Linked DNA regions of Homo sapiens. The protein of the gene in region 3 interacts with the protein of the main gene of each other region in a pairwise test. Each region holds a gene or a part of one and is shown on either strand. Other genes may lie near its edges.

The links.
Region 1: the proteins of BSND (region 3) and CSGALNACT2 interact in binary tests that used the Homo sapiens proteins (3 or more experiments, as listed by UniProt).
Region 2: the proteins of BSND (region 3) and THAP4 interact in binary tests that used the Homo sapiens proteins (3 or more experiments, as listed by UniProt).
Region 4: the proteins of BSND (region 3) and CERT1 interact in binary tests that used the Homo sapiens proteins (3 or more experiments, as listed by UniProt).

The regions. Positions count from the first base shown.
Region 1 is NC_000010.11:43,141,427-43,148,462, reverse strand, and holds part of CSGALNACT2 (chondroitin sulfate N-acetylgalactosaminyltransferase 2), read right to left. Parts: intron 1-7,036. UniProt on the Homo sapiens protein: Transfers 1,4-N-acetylgalactosamine (GalNAc) from UDP-GalNAc to the non-reducing end of glucuronic acid (GlcUA). Required for addition of the first GalNAc to the core tetrasaccharide linker and for elongation of chondroitin chains.
Region 2 is NC_000002.12:241,599,137-241,606,172, reverse strand, and holds part of THAP4 (peroxynitrite isomerase THAP4), read left to right. Parts: intron 1-3,093; coding exon 3,094-3,203; intron 3,204-4,173; coding exon 4,174-4,277; coding exon of another isoform or gene 4,278-4,358; intron 4,359-7,036. UniProt on the Homo sapiens protein: Heme-binding protein able to scavenge peroxynitrite and to protect free L-tyrosine against peroxynitrite-mediated nitration, by acting as a peroxynitrite isomerase that converts peroxynitrite to nitrate.
Region 3 is NC_000001.11:55,008,933-55,015,932, forward strand, and holds part of BSND (barttin), read left to right. Parts: 3' UTR 1-7,000.
Region 4 is NC_000005.10:75,508,623-75,515,780, forward strand, and holds the start of CERT1 (ceramide transfer protein), read right to left. Parts: upstream 3,008-7,158; 5' UTR 2,884-3,007; coding exon of another isoform or gene 2,586-2,883; coding exon 2,490-2,585; intron 2,448-2,489; exon of another isoform or gene 2,152-2,447; intron 1-2,151. UniProt on the Homo sapiens protein: Shelters ceramides and diacylglycerol lipids inside its START domain and mediates the intracellular trafficking of ceramides and diacylglycerol lipids in a non-vesicular manner.

The DNA.
Region 1 (7,036 bases), on a different chromosome or scaffold from region 3:
ATTAAACACAATCCTCTTCAAGAATCCCAGTGGACTTCTTGCAGAAATTGGCAAGCTGATCTTAAAATTTATACAAATTCAAGAAACCCAGAATAACCCAAATAATATTGAACAAGAAAAATGAAATTGAAGGAAAACACTTCCCAATTCCAAAAATTACTACAGAGCCCCAGGTAATTAAGACAATGTGGTATGGCATAGAAATAGACATATAGTCAATGGAATGGAACTTAAAGCCCAAAAATAAATCATCACATTTATGGTTAGTTGATTTTCAACAAGAATAGCAAGGCAGTTCAATGGGAGAAAGAATAGTTTTTTCAATAAATAGTACTGGGACAACTGGATATTTACAGGCAAAAGAATGAAACTAGACTCCTACTTCACACCACATTCAAAAATTATCTCAAAATGGGTCAAATATCTGAATATAAGAGTCAAAACTAGAAAACTCTTAGAACAAAACCTATGTGTAAATATTTGTGACCTTGGATCAGGCAACAGCTTCTTAGATATGACACCAAAGACAAAACAAATATTAACTGGACCTCATCAAAATAAAAAAACTTGTGTTGCAAAGGACATCAACAAGAAAGTGAAGAAATAACCCATACAATTAGAGAACATTTGTAAATCATTTGTCTGTCTTACTTTAAAAAGCAAAAAAAAAAAAAAAAAAAGATAACTCGACAAGCAAAAGATCTGAACAGACATTTCTCTAAAGAAGATATATAAATGGCCTATATAAATACATGAAAAGATGCTCAACACCATTAGCCAAAAAGGAAATGCAAATCAAAAGCACAATTAGATACCACTCCACATCCACTAGCATGTAATTCAAGGTGAATCATAGACCTAAATGGAAAAAAACCAAAAGCAAGCATAGGATAAAATCTTTGTCACTCTGAGTTAGGCAAAGATTTCTTAGATATGATATTCAATAGCATAAATGATAAATTGAATTTCATCAAAATTAGCAATCTGTGCTCTTTCAAAGACATTGTTAAGAGAATGAGAAGACAAGTGATGGACCTGGAGAAAATATGGGCAAAGCATGCGTCTTATAAAGGACTTGTACCAAGAATATATTTTAAAATGATCAAAATGAAATAATAACAAACACAACTCAATTAAAATGTGGGAAAAGGCCTGAACCCTTCAAATAAACACTTGAAAAAGATGCTCGGCCGGGCGCGGTGGCTCACGCCTGTAATCCCAGCACTTTGGGAGGCCGAGGCGGGCGGATCACGAGGTCAGGAGATCGAGACCATCCCGGCTAAAACGGTGAAACCCCGTCTCTACTAAAAATACAAAAAATTAGCCGGGCGTAGTGGCGGGCGCCTGTAGTCCCAGCTACTTGGGAGGCTGAGGCAGGAGAATGGCGTGAACCCGGGAGGCGGAGCTTGCAGTGAGCCGAGATCCCGCCACTGCACTCCAGCCTGGGCGACAGAGCGAGACTCCCGTCTCCACAAAAAAAAAAAAAAAAAAAAAAAAAAGATGCTCAACATTGTTAGTCATTAGGGAAATGCAAATCAAACCATAATAAGACACCACTACACAGAAGGGCTAAAAATAGAATGGCTAACATTAAAAAGAATGACCATACCAAGTGTTGTTAACGTGGAAGGACTAGAACTTTCATACACTGCTGATGGGAATATAAAATAGTTTTGTTAATAAGTTATGAACTTAACAAGTTAGATTATTTTCTTATTAAAAAAAAAAAAAAGACAGCATCTTGCTCTGTTACCAGAGCTGTAGCGCAGTGCCTCTATCATATTATAGCTCAATGTAGCCTAACTCCTGGGCTCAAGTGATCCTCCTGCCTCAGCTTCCCGAGTATCTGGGGCTACAAGTGGGAGCCACTACACCTGGTGGGATGGCTAATATTGAGTGTCAACTTGACTGAACTGAAGGATACAAAGTATTGTTCATGGGTGTGTCTGTGAGGGTGTTGCCAAAGGAAATTAACATTTGAGTCAGTGGACTGGGAGGGGTAGACCCACACTCAATCTGGTTGGGCACCATCTACTCAGCTGCCAGCGGGGGTAGAATAAAGCAGGCAGGAGAAGATGGAAGGGCTGACTTGCTGAGTCTTATGGACTTCATCTTTCTCCCATGCTGGATGCTTCCTGACCTAGAACATCAGACTCCAAGTTCTTTAGCTTTTGGACTCTTGGACTTACACCAGTGGTTTTCCAGGGGCTCTTGGGCCTTTGGCTGCACAGACTGAAGGCTGCACTGTTAGCTTCCCTACTTTTGGGACTCGTACTGATCCACCACTGGCTTCCTTGCTCCTCAACTTGCTGATGACCTATCATGGGACTTCACCTTGTGATGGTGTGAGTCAATTCTCCTTAATAAACTCCCTTTCATATATACATATATCCTCTTAGTTCTGTCCCTCTAGAGAACCCAGACTAATACACTTGGCTAATTAAAAAAAAATCTTTTTTTAGAGAGAGAGTCTTGCTATGTAGTCCAGGCCAAGTTTCTTAATAAGTGAGTAAGCCTACTCATATGATCCAGCCATTCCATTCCTAGATATTTACCTAAAAGAAATGAAAGCACATATTCATACTATTAAAATAAGATGGAGACCAGGTCTGTAAATCCCCTGGACAAAGCCAGTTAAGCCATTAAAACAACCTTGACCTTGCAAATATAAGCAATAGAAGCAAAACTTAATTTGGGCTGTTTGCAAATGTAAACTTTGGTTATTTTTTGTCTGTGCCTATATTAAAGAAAAATCAGGCTGGGCATGGTGGCTCATGCCTGTAAGCACCTTGGGAGGTTGAAGCAGGAGGATCACTTGAGGCCAGAATTTGAGATCAGCCTGGGCAATATAGCTAGCGAGACCTTGCCTCTATAAGAAATTAAAAAATTAGCCAGGCGTGGCGATGCATGTCTGTAGTTCATGTTGCCCTGGTTACTTGAGAGGCTGAGGTGGGAGGATCACTTGAGCCCAGGAGTTCAAAGCTGCAGTGAGCTACGATCGCACCAAAGCACTCTAGCCCTGTCTCTTAAAAAAAAAAAAAAAAAAAAAAAAGAAACAAACAAACTTAGGCTACGCCAATTAGAAGCCATCAACTAACTTACATAACTAGGGACTTTCCAATAGGATGGACTAAACAAGGCAACTATATAAATATAATTAATCAAATATTTTCTTTGCCTTGTTTCCTTGTTCATCCTATAGAAGTCTTCCACTTGCATTCCTTTGGTGGAGTCCCAAATCACTTTTGATTTGTTGCTGTCTGATTCATGAATTGCTGTTTGCTCAGACAAAACTCTTTAAAATTTTATTCTGCCTCAGTTTATACTTTAACAATACCAAAACTTGTACACAAATGTTCATAGCAGCTTCTAGGTGTAGAGCCCAAAACCAGAAACAACCCAGGGTCCACCAACAGGTGAATGGACAAACTGTAGTAAAACAGATACACAATGGAACACTGCTTAGCAATAAAAAGGAATAAACTCTGACACATGCTTCACCATGGATAAATATCAACAATTACTCTGAGTAATAGGAGCCAGGCAACAGAAGTACTTACTATATGATTCTATTTATATAAAATTTTAGAAAATGCAAGGTAATTTGTAGTTAACTGAAAGTAAATCAGTCAATGATTGCCTGTGGGAGGTGGTACCAGGAAGGAATTATAAAAAGGGGTGAAAAAACTTTTGGGAGTAATGGATTTGCTCATTACTTTGGTTGCAGTGATGATTTCACAGGTGTATACATATGTTAAAACTTATCAAATTGCACACTTTAAATATGTGGTTTATTTTATGTCAATTATACCTCAATGAAGCTGTTTAAAAAATAAAGCCAAGTCAGATTCAGTAGCAGTGCCAAAAAGGCATTTGTAAAACAACAACAAAAAAAAACCCCTCCAGTTTGTTTACTGAAGTATAAAGATTTGTTGATTATGAATTTGCATTTAAAAAACAAAACTAAGCCCCTCATCTCCCCAAAAATAGAGTACTACATATTTACATATTCCTTTAAAGGTCTTACCATATCTTTTCTCCTTGCCTTGTGACTTGGAGACAACAGAAGTGTTAAAGATAGTTAATGCTACAGCACTGGTCCCTTACATAATAATAAGACCCTTAAGGAGTTTTTACTCAATCTTGATTATACACAATTTTTGGTACTATGAACACAAATGTTATGCATCATTTCCAGGACATGTACATTGCATGCAGTATGTCAAGCTAACTTGGAAGACTAATCTACTGCCCTCTGAAAGATATAATCCATTTGAGTGTATTATAAAACATATTCTGTATAATCTTCCTAAATTTTCTGCACAGAACAATTTCTCATTAAGGTTTTCAAAAACTAAATTTATAATTTTGAGTTCATTTTTTACAAAGCAAAAACAAAGCCACACAATTATTTGGAAAACATAACCAGTCAGAAAACTAAAGCATTATGAAGTGTAAATATCTAGGAAGGAGGAGATCAGAATGTTTCATTTCTTGATAAGTTCTTGATTACTTGATAAGTATTACAGTGATGCATGGGTTGTCAACATGTTATTGAATAAGTGGTCTGTAAGTACTGATCATCTGAAAGCAGCACTTTTTCAACAAATACTTGATTACCTACTGTGTGTCAGGCACTGTGCTGAGTACCAAGGACAAGTAATATCAAATGGATCCTTTTAACAGCGTGTTTCTGGAGAAAACTATAATCATGGTACCTGGATTTCAGCAAGACAAAGGAGAAAAATGTGCCAAACTGTGGCACAGCAAAAACCAGTTAAAGAGTCAAGTGTAACAGCTACTTAATAGCTATGTAATCTTGGGCATAACACTTCACCTCTCAGGGCCTCCTCTCAAAAATGAGGCAGTTTTGCCTGAACAGTCAATGTTCCTTCCAAGATATTATGATTCCTTTATTATGATTCCACACACACACACACACACACACACACACACACACACACACACATTTTTGGAGAGCAAACTTGATTTAAATGCACAGGCCGTTTAATCCAGCAATTCACAATTCCACTTTCCTGATTCTATACTACAGAAGTATCCATACTACTATATAAAGTCACATACATAGGATGTTTATCAGTGTTACACGTAACAGCAAAATAAAATTATAAGCAACTTAATGTTCATCAATAGAGGAAAGGTTAAATTAACTGAAGACATTTATACAACAGAATATTTTAAAGGAATTAGGTACATCTTTATGTGCTGATGTAGATAGTACCTACAAAATGGTGTTACCATGTTGCAAATATTTTTTCTCAGTTTGTCTTGTCCACAATAGGCTTGGGAGCCAGATGGCCTGAATTCAAAGATCTGCATCATGGTTTTCTACTCTTCATTACAGACAAATTCCATAATATATGTAAACTTCAGTTTCCTCCTCTGTTAAGTGGGAATAATTACAGAACCTACCTTAGAGTATAATTATAACACTTATTCAAGTAAAACATGACAAGCATAAGTGCTCAGTAACTGTTAGATATTATTTCCTATTAAGCAAAGTTTTGTTGGTGGTGGTGGTGGTGGTAATAGACTCAAATCTATCAATCTTTTCCTATTTCTTGATTTTAGCTTCCCTACCTGAAGTAATCCTAATAAAAGTAATTTTTCCCTCAAATAGATAGCTAATTCTTGCCATTTACCATGCAATCCATGCTCTTGTCACTAGTTTGAAATGCCATCTTTATCATTAGCAAAATTCCTATATATGCATAAGTCCATTTCTGACCTCTAAACCAGGAATCAGCAAATATTTTAGGTCAGACAGTAAATGTCACAACCAGTTGATTCTGCCTTTGCAGCACAAAAGCAGTCACAGATGATATGTAAGTGAATGAGTATAGTTGTGTTCCAAGGGACACTGAAATTTGAACTTCATATAATTTTCATGGGTCATGAAGCATTATTTTCTTTTTCTCCCCAAAGCATTAGAAAGTATAGGGCTGGGCACGGTGGCTCATGCGTGTAATCCCAGCACTTTGGGAGGCTGAGGCAGGCAGATCACGAGGTCAGGAGTTCAAGACCAGCCTGAGGAACACGGTGAAACCCCGTCTCTACTAAAAATTAGCCGGGCATGGTGGCATGCACCTGTAATCCCAGCTACTCAGGAAGCCGAGGCAGGAGAATCACTTGAACCCAGGAAACAGAGGTTGCAGTGAGCCAAGATCACGCCACTGCACTCCAGCCTGGGCAACAGAGTGAGACTCTGTCTCAAAAATAAATAAATAAATAAATAAACAAATAAATAAATACAAAATAAAAAAAATAAAAAGTGTAAAAGCCAGTCTTAGATCACAGGCTATACTAAAACAGGCAGCCAGCCATACTGGCAACCCCTGCTTTAACTTCTAAAAAATTTTTACACTTTAAAAATTTCACAAAATAAATACATGTGATAAAAAGGTTAAACAACATATAAGGGCACACAACCCCAATCCCTTCTGTGAGCTGGTAGGGAAGAAGAGTGGGGAACAGTCAGCAAACCTAACACATCTTTCCATAAGCTCTCAGAAAAGGCATACTTCTTGTTCGTCCCCACTGTACAGACAAAGAAACAGACCAGAGAGGGAAGGGTTGATCTATATTTGCCAGTCCTTTGTCCTCTGATACTTATTTCTCCCTGGCTCAGGATGCCCAAGACTGTGCCTGGACACTCCTACCTTCGCGATCTCTGTTATCTCTGTGGTTATTTCTTCTTTTCCTATTTCTAATGCCTCCTGGAACTCCTATTAGATGTATATTGACTCTTCTAGATCTACTTTGCATGTCATGGGTAGTCTTTCCCACTTTCTTTTTTTTTTTTTTTTTTTTTTTTTTTGAGACAGTTTCACTGTCAGCCAGGCTGAAGTGCAGTGGCAGCCTCCACTGCCTGAACAGCTGGGACGACAGGTGTGCACTACCATACTGCTAATTTTAAAAATGATTTGTGGCCAGGTGCGGTGGCTCACGCCTGTAATCCCAACACTTTGGGAGGCTGAGGCAGGTGGATCATGAGGTCAGGAGATCAAGACTATCC
Region 2 (7,036 bases), on a different chromosome or scaffold from region 3:
TTGCCTGAATGTGCAACTGAGACACAGAGTGGTAAAAATGATACTTTCTGGTTCTGTTATATTTTTGGAGATATTAAGCTGACCACCAAATTACAGGCTTGTTAATCCAAACATAAAAACAAATGCATGTACTTAATTTATGTATCAAAATTAATCACCCTGGCCAGTGCGGTAGCTCATACCTGTAATCCCAGCACTTTAGAGGCTGAGTCAGGAGGATTGCTTGAGCTTAGGAATTGAAGACCAGCCTGGGCAACATAGTGAGACCTTGTCTCTACTGAAAAGTATTTAGCCAGGTGTGGTGACACATGCCTGTAGTCCCAGCTACTCGAGAAACTGAGGTGGGAGGATTGCTTGAACCCAGGGAGGGCCAAGGCTACAGTGAGCTGTGATCATAACACTGTACTCCAGCCTGGGTGACAGAGTGAGAACCTGTCTCAAAAAAAAAAAGAAAAAAATTAGTCACCCAATATTACTGAAAATAATAGTGCATGTTTGTATTTTACACGTACCCCTGAGCTATTTGGGGTCACAAGGAAGCTGTTAGTATGTGGTTCTCATATTCTTACCGTACAAGAAAGCAAAAGCCCCTTGAGGTCCCTCAGTATCCCTTCCCACCACCTGCTCCCCACAGGTGGAGAAATTGCCTGCTTTTAGGGAGATAGCAGTGTAGGCCTCTGAAGTAGAGGAGAGCCACCAGGGATGGGGAGTGGTTGAAGTATCTTTATTTTTTAATTATAGAAGTAATACACAGTTTTTTTAAAGTTTAAACAAAATATAAAAAGCAAACCCTCCCTTAGTCTCCATTACACAACTATATGTTAAGAATCTTATTAAACCAACTTGGTACTATTTGTATAATGCCTAGCAGTTTCAGAACGGGGCTGGGCACCTGGCTCTCAGACCCCCAGCTCTGAGACCCTCCATCCCCTTTTAGAAGATCTCATTGTTTTTAAAAATATCTCCTACCTTTTTATATTATTATTGATTGAATGCATGAGGTCAAAGTAATACATCTGCACATAAACCAAAAGGTGAGAATTCTGGGTAATACAAAATAACCCAGAACCCAAGCAGTCTTTTTTAAACTATAGATTATAACCCACGAAAAGGTCAGAAAGTCAATTTTGTGACTAGCATTCGAAGAAAAATGAACCAGAGTGGAAAATATATTTCAGTAAATGTGATGGTATGTGTGTTTGTGTGTGTGTCCTAGAATATGGTATAAATGTATTTCTTTGTCGGGGTTATGTTAGTGAGCATGTACCATTCTAGAAGGTGTAGCACCATCACTAGCCCAACAGAAATTTATCTTGGCCCAGCGCGGTGGCTCGTGCCTGTAATCCCAGCACTTTGGGAGGCCAAGGCGGGTGGATCACTTGAGTCCAGGAGTCCAAGACCAGCCTGGGCAACACAGTGAGACCCTAAAAAAATTTGTTTTAATAAATAAATAAGTTTATCTTGGCCAGGTGCGGTGGCTGACGCCTGTAATCCCAGCACTTTGGGAGGTCAAGGCAGGTGGATCACTAGAAGTCAAGAGTTCGAGACCAGCCTGGCCAATGTGGTGAAATTGTGTCTCTACTAAAAAAAAATACAAAAATACAAAAATTAGCCGGGTGTGTGGCTGGGCACAGTGGCTCACACCTGTAATCCCAGCACTTTGAGAGGCTGAGGTGGGCAGATCACCTGAGGTTGGGAGTTCAAGATCAGCCTGACCAACATGGAGAAACCTGGTCTCTACTAAAATTACAAAATTAGCCGGGCATGGTGGCGCATGCCTGTAATCCCAGCTACTCGGTAAGGCTGAGGCAGGAGAATCGCTTGAACTCAGGAGGCGGAGGTTGCAGTGAGCCAAGATAGCGCCATTGCACTCCAGCCTGGGCAACAAGAGAGAAACTCTGTCTCAAAAAATAAATAAATAAATAAATAAATAAATTAGCCGGGTGTGGTGGGCGCCTGTAATCCCAGCTACTCAGGAGGCTGAGACAGGAGAATCATTTCAACCCAGGAAGCGGAGGTTTCACTGAGCTGAGACCGCGACGAGCCTGGGTGACAGAGCAAAAAAATAAATAAATAAAGTTTATCTCTAAGAATCATAGAGATGGATTCCCTATAGAAACTCATAAGGTTGGTGAAATGATAAATGAGGCTTTTTTTTTTTTGGTTTGGTTTTTTTGTTTTTATTTTTGTAGAAACAGGGTCTGTGTTGCCCAGCCCTGTCTCAAATTCCTAGGCTCAAGAGATCTACCCGACTGGGCCCCTGAAGTGCTGGGATTACGGCCTTGAGTCACCATGCCAGCGAGTTAGTTTTTAAGCCGTGGTTTTGTGCCCTCAGTTCAAGATGCAGGTGCCTGTCTTTTACTGTTGAGAATTTGCACTAATGATGAAGGGTGATAAGAAACCATACCATAACTCAGCACCTGTTCTGTTTTTTACCGTAGGAATTGATTAGATTCTTACACAAGAGCATAGCTCAAAAGAGAAAGATTGTGTTAGGGTGAGGTTTACTGCAAGGGAGTGCTGAGGGCTGACACTGTGTGAGGCCTGGGCTAACGGGCCCAGGGCAAGGATATGCCCTGAGGTGATTAAGAACAGTGCTGTCTTCAGGAGCTGAGGGTCAGCAGGCAAGACAGACACAGCCAAAATGAGCAAGGTGGTGGAGGGGGCGGGCAGGTGTGCGGGTGTGGCTGGAACAGCCCGTCTTCAGGAGCTGAGGGTCAGCAGGTAAGACAGACACAGCCAAAATGAGCAAGGCGCTGGAGGGGGCGGGCAGGTGTGCGGGTGTGGCTGGAACAGCCCGTCTTCAGGAGCTGAGGGTCAGCAGGCAAGACAGACACAGCCAAAATGAGCAAGGTGGTGGAGGGGGCGGGCAGGTGTGTGGGCGTGGCTGGAACAGCCCGTCTTCAGGAGTGGAGGGTCAGCAGGTAAGACAGACACAGCCAAAATGAGCAAGGTGGTGGTAGGGGCAGACAGGTGTGCGGGTGTGGCTGGAGCAGCCACCTGGAGGGCACCCTGGACAGTTCTGGCATCCACGCAGCCCACGCCATCTTGGAGGCCAGTGCCTGGGCTTCTCAACTCCAACTTCCCGTCCAGGTTCAACTCCTTCCACCCGGACACGCGCAAGCCGATGCACAGAGAGTGTGGCTTCATTCGCCTCAAGCCCGACACCAACAAGGTGGCCTTTGTCAGCGCCCAGAACACAGGTGAGGCCCAGCTTGCGGGGCGGGAGGGCTGGCCATGGGAGGCTGCTGCCTGCATTCGAAGCAGGGGTGCAGGGATGCCCATGTGCAACCCTGCTGAGGCATGTGCTGGTGGGGACCGTGGGGATGGCCCTGAGTGTTGAGAGTGGTCCTGGGAGCCTGCGGGGCCGACTGTGTAGCTGTAGGGGCCTCCGGCACACAGGTTGTGTGCGTGCAGCCCCCTGACCATGAGGGCCCGTTTACCCAGTGCCACGTCTGCAGAAATGGCCATCAGCTGTGTGCATTCATTAGGAATTGCTGGAAAACAGGTTGGGCACAGTGGCTCACGCCTGTAATCCCAGCACTTTGGGAGGCCTAGGTGGGCAGATCACTTGAGGTCAGGAGTTCAAGACCAGCCTGGCCAACATACTGAAATCCCGTCTCTACTAAAAATACAAAAATTAGCTGGGTGTGGTGGTGCATGCCTGTAATCCCAAGCCACTTGGGAGGCTGAGGCAGGAGAATCACTTGAACCTGGGAGGCAGAGGTTGCGGTGAGCCAAGAATGCGCCACTGCACTCCAGCCTGGGCAACAGAGCGAGATTCTGTCTCAAAAAAAAAAGAAAAAAAAAAAAACCAGCCTGCGTGACTCTAGATCAGTGTTTCTTCCTGGACGTCCATTCCCACCTGCGACTTCTGCCACTGTATGTGCTAGGGGTGGTTCTGCCAGGCTGATTGGTGGGTGGAGGTGGGAGGGCTGGGGCCCAGTCTGGAGAGGGTGGCCTTCCATAGAGCACCTGCCTGTTCTGTGAGGAGAGTTGTGGCTTTCCCTCCGTATCCACAGGGTGAAGTGGGGAGGAGGAGAAATATCGTTGCTTCCACAGCTGCAGAGTTGGGGCCTCCTGTGGAGTCCCGGCTTGCAGGCAAGGAGAGTCAAGGCTGCCTCTCTGCAAGCCGAGCAGCTGCTGGGTGAGCTGACTGCCCTTCCCTTGCAGGCGTGGTGGAAGTGGAGGAGGGCGAGGTGAACGGGCAGGAGCTGTGCATCGCATCCCACTCCATCGCCAGGATCTCCTTCGCCAAGGAGCCCCACGTAGAGCAGGTGAGCCCAGCCCTGCTCCCAGCACGCTCCTGTCTTCTGTTTGCAGCGGTCTGTGGAGTCAGCCTCTTCCTCTTCCGTGAGGTAGTGCGTGTCTTGCCACTGTGTCTCACAGGCCTGTCTTCACTGTCTCCTTCTTTTCCCTTCTCGGACCATCCAGGGTGGATGTTCCCTAAATTCATTGCCCCCTCCTCGGCTGGTCAGTGGTGTGGTTTTTTTGAGGTTTGTTGTTTGTCACAAACATCCTTTTGCATTTGGGTTGTCCACGTTTACAGATATATCCATATCTATTGATAAATTTTTCCCAGTTAAATTGCTGGATCAAAGGACAGGTACATTTTAAATTTGATACACACTGTTAGATTGTATTTCTTCATGATTATCCTCCCACTATCTCTTGCATGAGGGCAGCTGGTTCCCTACTCCTTAACAACATGGTGTATTTTCAGAATTTCGGTCCTTTCAAATCTGAGAAATAAAAGATGAAATCTCACTCATGTTTTGAATCTAACTTAGAAGCAGGAGGGCTCATTCCCCATGCTCACTGGCTGTTTACGCTTCTTATTCTGTGCACTTGATATTTAAAGTCTTTGCCTGTTTTTCTGTGGATTGTTCTTTTTTGAGGCGGAGTTTCGCTCTGTTGCCCAGGCTGGAATGCAAAGGTGGGATCTCGGCTCATCGCAACCACCGCCTCTCAGGTTCAAGCGATTCTCCTGCCTCGGCCTCCTGGGTAGCTGGGATTACAGGCATGCGCCACCACGCCTGGCTAATTTTGTATTATTAGTAGAGACAGGGTTTCTCCATGTTGGTCAGGCTGGTCTTGAATTCCTGACTTCAGGTGATCCACCCGCCTCAGCCTCCCAAAGTGCTGGGATTACAGGTATGAACAACCGTGCCCGGCCAGATTGTCCTTTTTTTTTTTTAAAGATTTGTAGGAGCTTTCTGTATGCCATGGGTTAATCTGTTGTCTGCTTTATTTGTGACACATACTTCCCTAGTCTGTGGCCTGGTCCATGATGGGCTGTGCCCCACAGGTGCTCAGCTTTCCTGTTGTTGCCTCTGGGCTGTTTCCTTTACAATGTCTGGATTTGGGTTCTTGCTAAGGAAGTTGTTGTCCACTCCAAAATGATAAAAATATTCTCTCATTTTCTTTCTTTTTTTTTTTTTTTTTGAGACGGAGTCTCACTCTGTCACCCAGGCTGGAGTGCAGTGGAGCAATCTCGGCTCACTGCATGTTCTGCCTCCTGGGTTCACGCCATTCTCCTGCCTCAGCCTCCCGAGTAGCTGGGACTACAGGTGCCCGCCACCACACCCAGATCATTTTTTTGTGTTTTTAGTAGAGACGGGGTTTCGCTGTGTTAGCCAGGATGGTCTCGATCTCCTGACCTTGTGATCCACCTGCCTCGGCCTCCCAAAGTGCTAGGATTACAGGCGTGAGCCACCGCGCCCAGCCTGTTCTTTCATTTCTTGTATTCTTACAGCTTTCCTTTTTACATTACCACCTAGACCTTTAATCTCTCTCACATTTGTTTTTTGAGTGACGCAGCGTATAATTCTAACTCTTCCAGATGAGTGACCCAGTAGTCCCAACACCATTCATCGAATTCCATCCTGACTCCACAGATTTGGAATGTCATACATACATTAAAGCACATCCACATAAATATAGGGGTCTGTTTCTTTTTTTCTTTTTTCCTTTTTTTGAGAAGGAGTCTTGCTCTGTTGCCCAGGCTGGAGTGCAGTGGCACAATCTCAGCTCACTGTAGCCTCCACCTCTCGGGTTCAGGTGATTCTCCTGCCTCAGCCTCCCGAGTAGCTGGGATTACAGGCATGTGCCACCATGCCCAGCTAATTTTTGTATTTTTAGTAGCCATGTTGACCAGGCTGGTCACAAACTCCTGACCTCAAGTGATCCGCCTGCCTCAGCCTCCCAAGTGCTGGGATTACAGGCATGAGCCACTGTGCCCAGCCTCGTTTGTCTTTCTTCGTCTGCTTGTCCACTTCCTTACCAGTAACACATTTTTAGCTCTCACAGCTGTATATTACATGTTAATGTCTAAGGGAACGTTTCCCACATTTTTTCTCCAAATTTTCTTACTCATTCTTAAGCATTTCCTCTTCTAGATGAACTTTTGAATAAACATCTCAAGGCTTATAAAATGTACATCAAGACTGCATTGAATACATGAATGAATTTGGGTAGAATTGACATATTTTCATGGGTAGCAATATGCAGCGTGACAGTGTATTACGGTGACTTTAGGTCATGTTTTGTGTATTTTAGTATATAGAAAAGCTTTATTTCTTTATAGTTTTAATTATACAGGTCTTGTACATTTCATGTTAGGGTAAACTCAAGTGTTTTATCATTTTTGTTGCTTGTAAATAGATTTTTTCCCATTTAATCTTCAGATTGATTATTGATAATTGTGTGGACACTTCTGATTTCTCTGTGTTGAACTGGGCCACTGGTGTAACTTTCAGACAGCCAGGATCTTAGGCACAGCATGGATAGAACAACAGGCGTGAATGTTTGTTGCATGCTTGTCCCTGACTCTAGTGGAAATAGTTCTGTGTGTCACCACCTGTAAGATGCTCACTGTAGATTACTTACTGGTAGATAAGAAGGTAGCTTTTTTTTTTTTTTGAGACAGAGTCTCAATCTGTTGCCCAGGCTGGAATGCAGTGGCACGATCTCAGCTCACTGCAACCTCCGCCTCCTGAGTTCAAGCGATTCTCATGCCTCAGCCTCCCAAGTAGCT
Region 3 (7,000 bases):
CTTCCTTGGTGCTCCCTCTGGGCCCCTGATCCTTTGTGAAGGCCAGTCAGGTTTCCCATTCCTATTGTGTCTTATAGTCCACTTGGTAGATGGCGTGATCCGTCTTTACACAGAGGGAGCCTCATCTCCTCCTGGGCCACATTCCTCCTGCAGCTCCCATCGCTCCTTGGCCAGGACCCAAAACCTTCTGTGACTGACCCCTGCTGACCTCATTCTCTCTGCTCCTCCAGTTCCAAGCCTAGCCCCCCTGCCCATCTTGCGGCTCACACTCTTGCCCAAGCTGTTCTCCTCCACCAGGATGCCCTTGGCTCCCTTTTCAGCTTGGCAAATTCGTGCTCACCCTTCAAACCCCTACACAGATGACCTCCCTTGGAAAGGTTTTCCTGATGTCGCTGCCTCCTGGAACCAGGTGGTCTTGCCTCTCTGCGCTGCCTTTGGGACCTGTATATTTGTCAGTGTGGCATGGCTGCCTGCCTCCCGTTGAAGGGCAGCATCTTGACTTTACTCACCTTGAGATCGCCTGTGCCCAGATGGGCCTTTGGCCTGGCCCAGAATCGGTGGTCATCAAGGGTGTACAGAACTCACCAGGACCCAGGAACCTGTTGCAGATAAAATCACTCTCCCCCACGTTCCCAACTTTTAGACTCACAGCCCTCTTACTTCCCAGCATTCAAACTTCTAAATGGCCTGTATGTATTCACAAAGCAGGCAAAAAGCCCCCAGAGGAACACCACCCCCCACCCCTGCCTCTGGAATACATTTGCTTTGACTTGGAATTGTAGGTGAAATTCATCTTCCTGGCCTACTTCAGTTTGAATCAGTTGGCTAGCCAGGTGCGGTGGCTCATGCCTGTAATCTGAGCATTTTGGGAGGCTAAAGTGGGTGGATCACTTGAGGCCAGGAGTTGGAGAGCAGCCTGGGCAACATAGCGAAACCCTATCTCTACTAAAACTACAAAAATTAGCTGGGCGTGGTGGTGCACACCTGTAGTCTCAGCTACTTGGGAGGCTGAGCTGGAGGATAGCTTAAGCACAGGAGATGGAAGTTGCAGTGAGCCGAGATCGCACCACTGCACTCCGGCCTGGGTGACAGAGTGAGACCCTGCCTCAAAACAAAACAATTGGAATTGGATGGCATTTAGTGAGCATCTACTATATGCCAGATATTGAGCTGTGATCTCTAGGGGTAAAGAGACATGAACTACTGACACCGTGCTTGCCTTCAGAGGGCTCACAATCTAGTGAGCTTGATTTCTGTGAGTGCAGAGCAGAAGCTGAGGTGGGAACAGAGAAGTAAAAAATGGACACACCAGAGGCAGAAGAGTGACAGCCTCCCAGCTGTTTGGGGCAGTTGAGTATGGTGGGGAAATAGCTCAAGCTGTCTTTGCAGCCCCTGAAGACATCACTGTACCCTATTGAACCATCTCAGGGTGATGCTATTGTTACGCTGATCCCTGCAACGCTTGCCTGTGCCCCAGCCCAGGATCCTGGCAGCTGCAGAGAAAATGGCAGTAACACTACCTCAAACCAGGACCACGCCCTCAGAGCCTGCACCCTGGGCCACCTGGGAGTCAGAGACCTTCACCTGGGCTATGGGGTTCTGGGTTGAGGCTGGGGTTCCCGGCCTAGGGAAGGGCTTCCGGGTTGAGGCCGGGGGTCCTGGCCTAGGGAAGGAGATGCCCCTGTGTGCTGGGTTACAAGGTCATGGCCCTGGGAACACACTTCCTTTTCTTTCTGGGTCATTTCTGCCTCTGCAGTGAAGGATGCCACAGGGTACACCCTCTCTGCTGTCATGACTCAGGACAGGAGTTCCTGGTCACAGCTGAGTCTTCGGATGAGGTGAGGGGTAGCATGCTCCTGTGCTCTGTTGCCTAAGGCAGGGCAGCCTACAACCCACGTTAGAAACAGCGTCAGCACTAAGGGCTAAAATAAAACTACTTTCAACATTTAAAGGGGTCATCTTCATTCACCTGCAAATTCTTTTCTTTAAAACCACCCCTTCCCTCGGGGCAGGATACGTGAGGCCTTACGCCTGACGGGCACCAGAGGCCCTCTTCCGGAAGTAAGCCCTCACTGCAGTGGCATGACCGTGGGGTGTGCTGTGTGGTGCTGAATCTCAGGAGTGATTCCCCACACCCCTGAACCACAACCGCAGTGGCTTTAGACTTAAACAAGAGCCTCTGGTTGCTGGGCCTGCCAGCAGGAAGATGGTAACCCTGTTCTAGAGTTAGCATCTGCAGGGGGCTTGGGGTAGTGGAGTGAGATGGTGAGACCCAGGCTTGGTCTCCCTGGCTCTTGCTGCATGATGGGGAGACCACACACCTGATCTGCCCAGGAAGGTCCCGGTTGACACCGACTGCCTCTGCTAAGTTATTAGGAGGCCCCTTTCACGCTCGAAGATACCTCATTTGGATGATACAATGTTACCTTACCTACTCTGTGACCTTTGACAAGTCTGGTTGCCTCCGTAGCCCTCAGCTTTCTCATGTGCAAATGACAGATGAAGTGCGCATATCTTGGAATCTTGGAAGTGATGGGGGTGTTTGATGGGACCTATCTTGTCAATGCCCTGCAGCCAAAGACCACTGGGAGCACACCTCACCTGTGGTTAACAAGCTGGGTTTCTTCTTGCAGTAAGGGGGAATGAACACCACAGCGAACCAGGGGGAGTCTCTGAAAGAGGTATTAGAAAGGACTTGTTACTGGATTTGGGCCAGTGCTCAGTGGCTTGGCGAGGGTTTAAGAAGCAGGCCTTTGCTCTGAACCGGCTGCTGTCAGGAGGCGGGGCTCATTCTATGACTGGGTGTCTTCTTCAACCTTATCTAGGATAAAATAAAATCATAAAACACTGTGCTTCATGCCCCTGGCCTTGCCAACTTGCAGTCCCCTCTAAGAGCATCAGAGCCTCTGGGGCACCCCCTCTCCACTGGGAGAGGGGCAAGGTGCTGGTGAAGGTCCTGGGGAGAAGGCTGGGAGGCTCTGAAAGGGTCAGGAGGGGCCTTTTGGGGTGGCAAAGCCTGGGATTCTAGCGTTCAGCTCCAGGCTCCAGGTGTGTGTGCCAGGGTGAAAATTCCTGCTCTTGGTCACTCTCCTGTCAGGTTGGAGGGACTCTGGAAGTTTCCACCCTCTGGAGAGGGAAAGGCCCTGGAGGGATGGCCCCTGCCCTTAACTGGAAAGGGTGGGCAAGGGAAGGCAGGGGGCCCAGGGGCAGGGAACCTGGGCTCTGCCGACCGCTCGCCATGACCTTGGGTACATCACAGCCCTCCCTGGGCTCCTCTATTCTCTGTAAAATTGGGTGAGGGTGGGCAAGATTCCACTTCTGCTCCCAGTCCCTGAGCACTGTGTGCCTGTCACCATGCAAGACACCGTCACCCCTATTACCCTATCTAGTCCGTGAAACAGCCCTGGGGGACCGATCTGTCGACCCCACATTGCAAATGTTTGTTATAAATCCCAGGCTCCAGAATCAGAAAGACCTGGTTTTACCTTCAGCCTCAGCCAGTTCCTTGCTGTGTGGCCTTGGACAAGTCACAGCCCCTCTCAGAGCCTCAATGTCCACATTTATGCAGTGGGGAGGATAATACCTCCCTCTTGGGCTTTTGTGGAGAAGAACTGGGTATAATGCCTCAGGCACATTTAGGTGCTTAGACAGTGGTGGTCTTCTTCCCTCTCTGGGTCTCTTCCCTCATCTATGCATCAGGGAGCCACTGTCCTGCCTATAAATAAAACAATAGGTGAGTGCATTCACCAGGAGGAAGATGCATGTAAAAGCTTCTTGCAAGGGGTAAAGAAAGTCTGTGTGCCCAGTGCTGAGAGGCAGGTGAGCCAACAGCAAGTGCAGGGACTAAGGTGTATAAAATGCCTCCTGTGGGGCAGGAGGGGAGCAGCATGCTGAGTGAGAGAGGCAGCACCCTGGAAGCTTGGAGGAGGAGCAGGATTGCTTGTGCTGTCAGACAGGTGTCAAACAGGGTTCCAGGCAGCTGCTGAGTGTCAGGTGCTTCCCATAAATCATTTCATTGAATTTAATTTTTCCATCTGCCCTGAGAGATGGGTATTACCAGGGGAGAAACTGATATTCAAACATAGGTCCTCTGAGCCTGTGCTCTTCCCACGATGCCACCTGGTCCACGTCATAAGACTCAACAATGCACCTGTTGTGCTGTGCACACTTTTCTTCATTTCATCCTCGCAGCTTGCAAGGTTGGTGTATTGTCCCCATTTTATTTTTATGTATTTATTTATTTATTTTGAGATGGAGTGTTGCGCTTGTTGCCCAGGCTAGAGTGCAATGGCGCAATCTCAGCTTGCTGCAACCTCCACCTCCCGGGTTCAAGTGATTCTCCTGCCTCAGCCTCCCAAGTAGCTAGGATTACAGGCGCCTGCCACCACACCCAGCTAATTTTGTATTTTTAATAGAGATGAGGTTTCATCATGTTGGCCAGGCTGGTCTTGTACCCCTGACCTCAGATGATCTACCCGCCTCAGCCTCCCAAAGTGCTGGCATTACAGGTGTGAGTCACTGCACCCAGCTGTCCCCATTTTATAGATGAGGAACTGAGGCTCAGAGAAGCTGAATAATTTGCCCATCCTTGCGGAGAAGAGCTAAATGGAGGAGAGGAGGTAGAGCTGCAGGGCTTTCTGTTCCTGCCAGGAATCATCCAGTAGCCCCAGGCCATTCTGACCCTAGTGGGACAGGAGAAAAATCAGTATCAATAAGTCAGGCAGCAAGGTTCCACTGAGCATCTCCCTGTGCTAGTGTGGAGGGAGACACCCCCCTGCAACATCTTCCATGACTGCCTATTGCCCACAAGATAAAATTCAGATTCCTCAGGCTGGCATTTGAGGCCCTTCATGATCTGGCCCCAACTGCCCCATCCAGCTGAATCATCTGCCATGTGCTCCCGTGCAGCAGCCCCGGCATCCTCACCTTTCCAGCCACCCTGCCTTGGCTCATGCTGTTCCCTCCACCCAGGTGCCCTTCATCCCCTTCTCTGTCATCCCTCAAACCCTACCTGTTCCCTGGAGCCTGAATTAGCCCTGCTCTCCCCTTCCACGGTGGAATCCATCTCCACTGCACCCTCTCCTCCGAATCCCTCCTAAACTGTGTGCCCCGCTCTGTCCCCAGCACTTCTGAATGACTAGCTGTGTGAGTACCAGTCTCCCCACATGGACTGGGAGGTCCTTCAAGGACAGGGGCCTCTTCCCCGCCAATACTTCTATCCCCAGGACTTAGCAAAAGCAAGGAACAGTAGTGCTGGTGGAACAGAATTGAACCGAACCGGGTGCCCACTCTGAAGGCTCATGGCCCAGGGGCATGGACTCCTAGCCCAGGGCTGAGGAGCACCAGCTTTGGAGTAAACAGCGCTGGGTTTGAGACTAGGCTTCCCTACTGGCCAGCTCTGTGACTTTGGCCAGGAGACTTAGCCTCTCTGGCCCTCAATTTCCTTATTAATAAATTGAGGTTAGTGATATCGACCCAATAGGCATGTTGTGAAGATTGGATGAGATCATGCATATTGAGTGTAGCATGTGCCTAGCACCTGGTGAGCCCCCAGTAAAGTCAGTTATCATTGTTAGTGTTGCCTGCAGAGATGATGTTACAATGTGTAGACATCAGGTGCCCATGTGCACCTGGGTCGTTCAAGCCTACAAGCACTGTGTCATCCAAGCACATGTATAATTCGAGCTTTGTATCGTCAGTGCTTCCAAGTGCCTGTCAATGGACCCAGCTGGGCTGGTGGCATCAGACTCTCCTGGGAAACTTTAAAAATCTAGTGTCCTAGAACCATCCTCAGAAAAGTCTGGGATGGCCTGGGTTTTGCATAAGCAAGCCTGGTGATTCTTAAGTGCTGAAGGGCTTAGTTGTTTGTTTTTCTTAAATGAGTTATCAAACATTGGATAGCTGGTAGGCAACCCAGAAGAGGTGGGAGTTGCAAGCCAGGACTTAAAACAGTAGAATGAAGGAGTGAGGGTATCTCAGGCAGAGGGCATGGCATAGGCAAAGCCTTGGGGGAAGGAAGGAGGAAGAAGGAGACTGTCCTGGCTGGAGTGGTGGAGGACAGGGTCAGAGAGGGAGGCCGCAGCTTGGCCATGGGGCTTCTTGAATTCCTGCCACGGAGCTCAGATTTGTTCTGATGGGCAAGGGGGATTAATTGATGATTCTTGAGCAGAGGAGTGACATGAAAGAAACATTCAGGTCATATACTAACAGATACAAAAGGGAAAGGTGGCACGTATTGGTGGCAAGAAGGCTGGTTTGTGCCCTGCGGCAGGGATTTCATTCTCAACCTGCCCTGTGAAAGGTTTTTTCCACTCATGTCACTGGGTGGATGCCAGGTCAGGACTGAAGCTTGCAGAGCCGGTGTCCTGGATTCCTCCTTGCTGACCACAAATCCAGCAGAGCAGGGCAGGGAACCCTGTGGCAGAGGCTGTTGCTTCCCGCCAAGACACCAGGGCCCTGGCCAAGGCAGTGCTCAGTTCACAGATGACCCAGGACAAGGGCAAATGAGGGCCCCAGTGACTCAGGAAGTCCCCAGGTCAGAAAATGGGCCCCACTGGTGATTCTGCAGATAGTCCCTGCACATCCCGGAGAAGAGCAGACACGGTGTGGTGGGTAGGTGGATGAGACCAGGCTTTGGGGATCAGATCAGCAAGCCTGGGGGTAAGGAGGGCTAGATTTTATCTAGTCATGTGTTCATTCATTTGTTCACTTATTCATTTATTCTAACCACAAACACTATGCACCTGCTTTGTGCCACCCCCTGTGCTAGGTACTGGGGGAAGAGACATGCATCTGACCCATGCTTGTCTTGGGGGAACCTCTACTACCCCGGGCTAACTGCAGAGTGAACAGTGACAGGTCAGTGCTGAGCAGAGGGAAGCACGGCGGGGATCTGACCCCACCTGGAGAGTCGGCAGGAGCTTCTCAGAGAGGAACTCCCACCAAGCTATGTCCTGAAGGATTCGCTAGGGAAGAGCAGGGAGGGAGAACAGCTTGGGCG
Region 4 (7,158 bases), on a different chromosome or scaffold from region 3:
GCAGGGGAATCAAATATTACTGTGGCCAACAGGCCAGCAGACACAAACTCAAGAGAAAAAAATATATATTTAGAATAAGAGTCAGAAGCAAGCTACAAACAAAATGCTATGGGAATTCAAGTGAAGGAGGTCTTGAATGATGGCAAAATAAGAAAAGGCTTTATGGAAAGGACAGTATTTGGCTTGGACTCTTAAGGATGGACAGAATTTCAAACAGTTTGGTGTGTGGAAAAACAGAAGGTAAACCATGAAGGATGGAGGAAATTCAGAAATTGAATGAGATTATTTTATCCAGGCTTAGGTGCTCTCAAGTCCTACTAAGGCATGCATCTTTTCCCCACCATGATCCATCACGATACTTGCTATAACTAGATAGAATTATTGTCTATCTAGTATTTTTGGAATCTATACACTTAAGTGATTTATAAGAAATATGCTTCATAGGTATTTCCATGTATTTCAGATTACCATATGGAAAATACCCTTTGAACTGGTATATTTCTAATATAAATTTACCCAAGCCCATTCCAAATCCACCCCATTTTGGGGGAGAAACAAAATGAATTGTACCGGGACTTATTTACATTACTCAATGGAAGGAAAAGAACAAAATCCGAGTTCTGACCTTTGTTTAAATTACCAGGTGAATACAAAGAATTCAAACTATATAATTTACATTTAAAAACATCTACCATACTCAGTATGAGTATATATACTCAATTTAGAATACCCTTGATTAAAAAGCTTCCAGAAAACTGTATATAACCATAAATTGGTAAATCTCAGGAAAATTTCCTTCATAGCTTTGAGCAAGAATACCAAAAGCTTTATTCCTATTCATTCTACATATGCAGCAACAGTCAAAATTTAAGCTATTCACCTTCCATAGAGGTGATCAAATACATTTGTATGCATTTAAATATCGAGATTGGTCTTCCATTTTTTTATCTATAGTATACCTACTCCAGAGCACTGGTTACTTTTTCCCCCGGTCACTCCACTCCCCCAACCCCCAAAAAAGTAATTATCAGTAGGTCAAAAGTACAATTTGTTTCGTAAAATACTTAACACATCACAATACTAATATGGCAGTCAGCTTCCCATCTTATGAGCAGTGATGAAACTACCAAAATCACTGAGAAGCAAGTAACCCACTTCCTATTACCAACTGAAAATGTATACCTACTACACAATGTGTTCAATAGAGATTCCTAAATTACAGGATACATTTAATCTAAAGAAATCCTGAGGAGCTTCTCGTTACTGAAAACCTTGCACTGAAATTTCAAGAATGATCACAGCATCAATATACAACATAATTTTGCTGCTATACAAATAAAAGTCAACACTTGCAATCCTTAGTTCTGACTACTCATGCCTTTCCTGGCCCCCTTCTCATTAGCTTTCTAGACATTATAAAAGCCTAATATGAAACAATTCCACAAATAATGTCCAAGTGATTTGCCAAATATGAATACTGGAAACAGGGTGATTTCTTAATAGCCACTGGCTGCACATGACATAGTATCTTATGACCAGCTTGTTGAGGGACTGGCCCAGCTCCCCCTCTCCAAGTTAACTGCTAGCTCCAGCCATGTCTAAAAAAGTTTAACAGGAAGGGAGAGAGAAGTCAAAAAGGCTACGTGAATCTTCTTACAGCAAAAACTTAAAAAAAAAATCCCCACAACTATGTAATATCAAGAGATCATCCACCTGCAGTCCTATAATGACTGCTTTGCTAAAATTTTGATACAGGGATTTTAAAAAATATATAAAAGATAAAACATCTTTTCCTTACCCTCGACCCCTTACCGCAAAAATATTTTATTATTAAGTAATGCTCTTCCTGGACTAAAGATCAGTCTCCATTCTCACATGTTCCAAGTTACTATGAATATTTCCTGTACCCATCATGTGCCGATTCAATATCTCTATTCTGAACTAAGGTACAGGGTGAGGGAGAAAGTCCTCCACATTCATCTGTCTCACTACATCTAACCTAGCAGAATTCAACACCTCAAATTTCAACACCAAGCTGAGTCGCTCCAGCTTCTGTCGAAAGAGTTGCGTCCGCAGTGCCCCCCAACCTACTCGGCTTGGCATCCTCAGAGAGACCAACCTCTTTTAAGAGGTCCGACTTGAACCGCTCCCATGCCCAGTCGTTCGGACACCGCTGAAGCCCAACCCGGATTCCTTACACCCGGGACAGCTGCCGCCCTAAGTCCCAAGTCACGGCGCGCATCTGGCCTCCCAAACTGGATCTCAGGTTTATACACCCTTTCCCTGGTCCTCGGCTGCCCCCGACGAGCCCCCGGGCAACAAGGACAGTGCCCCTATATCCCCGCCTCATCCCTAGTCGCTGCAGCAACACTCAGCCTCGCACCCCGGCACGTTCCGCGCCTCCCGCCAGCCCCACCCCACCGCCTCAGCGGATTGCCTCGCTGCAGGTGAGTCTGGCCAGGGGTCCCTTGGCACCAGGGGTTGCTCACCTTACTGAGGACCCCGCAGCGCTCCACAGGCGGCCCAGACTCCGTCTCTGGATCCTCCTCCGAGCCCGACGAGTTCCAGCTCTGATTATCCGACATGGAGGCTCGACAACCGAGCAGGAGACCGGCCCCCGCTCCCTCAGCTGCGCCGGAGGAGGCGCCCAGTCCTCGGGGTGAAGGGTCGGGGGATGGCGAAGCGAAGAGTGCCCGCTCCGGTGTGGGGGGGAGCAGGAGGAGGGACGAAGTCCGCCCGCCGCGCCGCCGCCGCGCCTGACACCGAGCGGAGCGAGGAAGGAGGACGAGCGGTGAAGGAAGCCTACCCTTCCAGCCGTCAGCCGCCGCCGCCGTCGCCGTGACCCCTGCGTTGCGCCCGGCGCTGCCACCCGAACTTAGCCCCCTCGATGCCAATTTCAAATAGGGAAGGAAAAGGGAAAAGAAGGGAAGAGAAAATCCGGCCGCTGAGTCCCGCGTCCACTCACACCTCCGCTACCGCCGCCATCTTCCTGCCTGGCCCACTATTTACCCTCCCCTCCCCTGTCCTTTCCCCTCCCCTTCGTCCTCCCATTCTCCCCCACTACTCCCCGCCCCGTCCCCCTCCCGGCGTCTGACGCGACACGCCGAGCCTTCGGGATCCTCCTCCCGAACCCTACCTCCGGCTCTCCCGGGTGACGACGGGTAGAAAAGCAGGAGGAGCGGAGAAAGGAGAGGGCGGGGTAGGGATGCAGCTGTGCTGCATTCTGGGAAGGGCGTTGGTCCGTCGCTCGCGCAGCCTCCTGGGAGTTGTAGTCGCGATCCTGAGGTAACGGGTGAGTATCCCGCGCGGGGATCGCTTGTCCCCTTGGGGCCTTGTCAGTCGGTGGGTGGGCTTCGTTTGACAGTTGCGTGACCAGCCCCTCGGCCTCGCTTCTATCCTTGCCTTGTGTGTTTATGACGAACCCTCCGGGCTTGCGGGCCCAGACGTGAGAGAGCTTTCCGCTGAAGATGACGGGCCTGCTTTCCAGGGCGGCTTGTCGAAAGCCCGGGAGCATCTGGCCGCTTCCGCCTCAACCATGGGCTGGGGTTTTGTGAGCTACTAGTGCCAAGGGTTTTCTTTCCACCAGACCACCGCTGTAAATCTCGAGGGTCTTACTCATTAGAAGTTAGAATTCACATTTGACGTTTAAAGGAAGAATTTCCTTAGTACCTTCTCACAAGCACGCACTTCGCATTTTTAGATTTCTAGAGTTTGCTTTGTAGAAAGTAATTTTGAGGTTGTCAGAGAATAAATGACGTTAGAAAGGTTTTTAAAGTAAAACAAGAATGTGAGATGATAGCCTGGGATTTTCTCTTGGTTGTAAATGAATATCTTACTGAGAACCACGTTAACCATGCCTGCCCCTCAAAGATAGGAAAGGTTGGATATATAGAAACTTTCTCGTATTAGAAATACCGAAGTGCAGTGGTTTTGTGTGTACAAGGGATTAGGCAATAGGAGGCTATTTTTGTTTTAAGACTAGGGTTGAATTAGCAGAAAGACCAATAGAAGATCTAACAACTCTTGTCAGTTGTCAAGGATAACTTTGATTATGAGACTTTGACTTTGTAGCTTCAGTAATTTCCTCTCGTTAGCTATTTTAATATAGTCGATTTCCTTGTAATTGCCAAGAGTAAAATTTGTTATTAAACCTTAGAAAGAGTACTTTCTTACTACAAGGATGGGACGATAGGAGCGAAATTTCGAGTCTAAGGGAAAACGCTGGCCGAGTGTGGTGGCTCACGCCTGTAATCCCAGCACTTCGGGAGGCCGAGGTGGGTGGATCACCTGAGGCCGGGAGTTTGAGACCAGCCTGGGCAACAAGGTAAAACCCCGTCTCTACTAAAAATACAAAGATTAGCCGAGCATGGTGGTAGGTGCCTGTAACTCCAGCTCTTTATATCCTGGTTTCAAATCTAGGCTTGATGACCTTCTCCCATATCCCAGTATCATATTTTTTTCTTCCTGCATGGGGGATTAATTACGATTCTGAATGGTTGGTAGCATGAAGCTAGGTTATCCCTATCGTGGCAATGGATATTTAAGTAGGCATTGCCAATATTTATCTTGCTTTCTTTTACTTTCTTCTTTTTCTGACCATCCACACTCCATTTATATTGATGAGTTCTTTTACTAATATCAATTATTATTATATTATGCTCATACTGCCATGTCTTATTCTGCAGCTTTGATCCTTAAGGTGACTTTGCATATCTGTCTAGGACTCCTTTATCTGTTGATTTTTACCATTTAAGTCTCCAAAGACAGCTGTATTTTTGGAAAAGTGGGAGGGAAGAGGTAGATGGGGATACTCATTGATACCTTAATGCACTTCACAGCTGCTTGAGAATATGTCAGATCTCATAAAAAGTTCTAACATTCGAGAATAAGACAGTGATTTCAGAAATGGAATTTCAAAGGGTGTGTAGGCCACCCTTTTTATCCTGTTTCCTATTGTAGAAATGAGAGCCAGGCTAGGAATGTTTCAAGCAGAAATATTCTTACTATTCAATGAAATTGAAAATGTATTCCCATATCTTTTACTCCTATCTGTTTGGTTTATGGGATAAAAACTTGTTAGAGTAGTTGGTATTTCATAGGCTTCACTATAACATTGGAAAATCTTTTAGTCTAAAAAGCACACAGTACGGTACACCAATGAACAGTATTAGTGCCCACTCTTGGCATGTACACATGTTCTTTCTGTCGTTTTTATTTTGCTTAGCTTTTGAGTCTCTTCCTGTTACTGTGAGAAATTCTTTTATTAATATTTTAAAGGCATACTATATAAAGCAGTGTGGTGGTATATTAGGTATCAGTAGAATCCTCTTGATAGTTATTTAGTAAACGTGTTTTGCTTCCTGTTTTTTTCTAACCTTTTTATTGTTTCACTTCTACTATAATTTCACATCCTTTTCTTCTTAGTCAAATAAGTTGAAAAAATATATTTTTATAGAACATGTTGCTATGGTGATAGTTTATGAAAATATACTTTATCCCTGTTTAAGATCTTTATTAAGATCTTGCTATATGATAATCTGACTGGGGTGCTATAAAAGTAAGATATAAACCACTTCTTCTGTAGATTCATTGTTTTCTAGCATTTTTCTGTCTAGGTATTCTGACAATAATTATGTGTAGAGAGTGAATAAATATTTAAAATTGTGTGTGACATAGGAGGTTTTCAGTAAATAATAACTGATGAATGAAATAAGTTTAACTTGGTTGATGATTGAAGAGAAGTTGTGGGAACTGCAATTAACAAGGCCCAAGAAAAAAATCACTAACATGATTAAAATTGGTCAGACACCAAAGAACCAAATAACATCATAGCCTTTTGTAAGTAGCAATTATCATTTGCCAAAGGCCTACAAAATGTCAAACATTGTTTTAGGTTCATTTGATTTATTCGCTCTTCACAAAAATCCTGCAAGGTAGACATTATTCTTACTTTACATATGAGGAAATTAACATTCAAAGAAGTTAATTGCCCAGATCATCGCTAGTGAATAGTCTAGTCCAGACTTTGGACCTTAGGCGCTTGCAATACATAACTTTTAATACATATAGAATTGATTTTAGATTTTAGAAAAGTCACTCAGGCATAATGGCACATATCTGTAGTCCTAGCTGCTCAGGGTGCTGAGGTGGCAGGCTAGCTTGACCCCAGAGGTTTGAGGCTGTAGTGAGCTGTGATCATGCCAGTGCACTCCAGTGTAGGTGACAAAGTGAGACCCTGTCTCAAAAAAAAAAAAATTCCAAAAAACTATTATCCCAAATTTTTTAAATGATTAAACATTTGAGAATCTGTCAGAGCCAGATAGATTACATTCTAGGTGTGTTACATAGTTTTTCTTTAGTTTAACAGTTTTCTTAAAAGAAAATTCATCCACATGCATTTTTAAGGTGCAGTAACATATAGCCAGTTTACAGCTCTTTTCTTGCTAGTGTACACTAGCAAATATATGTTCCAATTACGCATAAATAATTTAAATGATCTCTGGAGCCTCTTGCAACTATCCCCTTGTCTTGTGTTGCTACTAAAAGGAAAAACGTATTGATTTAACCTTTGGTATTATCAGGAAAAATAGTCATTGTCATTTACTATCATTTTATTTTTTGTATTTTTGGTCATTTTATGAATAGTCCTGAGAAGCAGCAATAAAGGGATAGTGGAAAAACAACTTTATTAGAAATTATAATAAAAATAAAAACATAGCAAACCCAAATTTTTATTCCATATATTCTTGAAATAGGGAGGCCTCAAGCAATCCTCCTGCCTTGGCCTCCCAAAGTGTTGAGATTTGATGTGAGCCAACATGCCAGGCCCAATATTCTTTTTTTATGGCTAAATTCCATTGTGTATATAGACCACATCTTCTTTATCCATTCATCCATTGATGGTTGATTCCATATTTTAGCTATTGTGAATAGTGCTGTAATAAACGTGTGAGTGCAGATATCTCTTCAATGTATTGATTTCCCTTTTGGATATATACGTAGTAGTAGAATTGCTAGATCATACAGTAGTTGTATTTTAAGTTTTCTGAGGAACCTCCATACTGTATTCCATAGTGACTGTACTAATTTACATTCCCACCAACAGTGTAGCAGGGTTCCCCTTTCTCCACATCCTTGCCACCATCCATTATTCTCTAT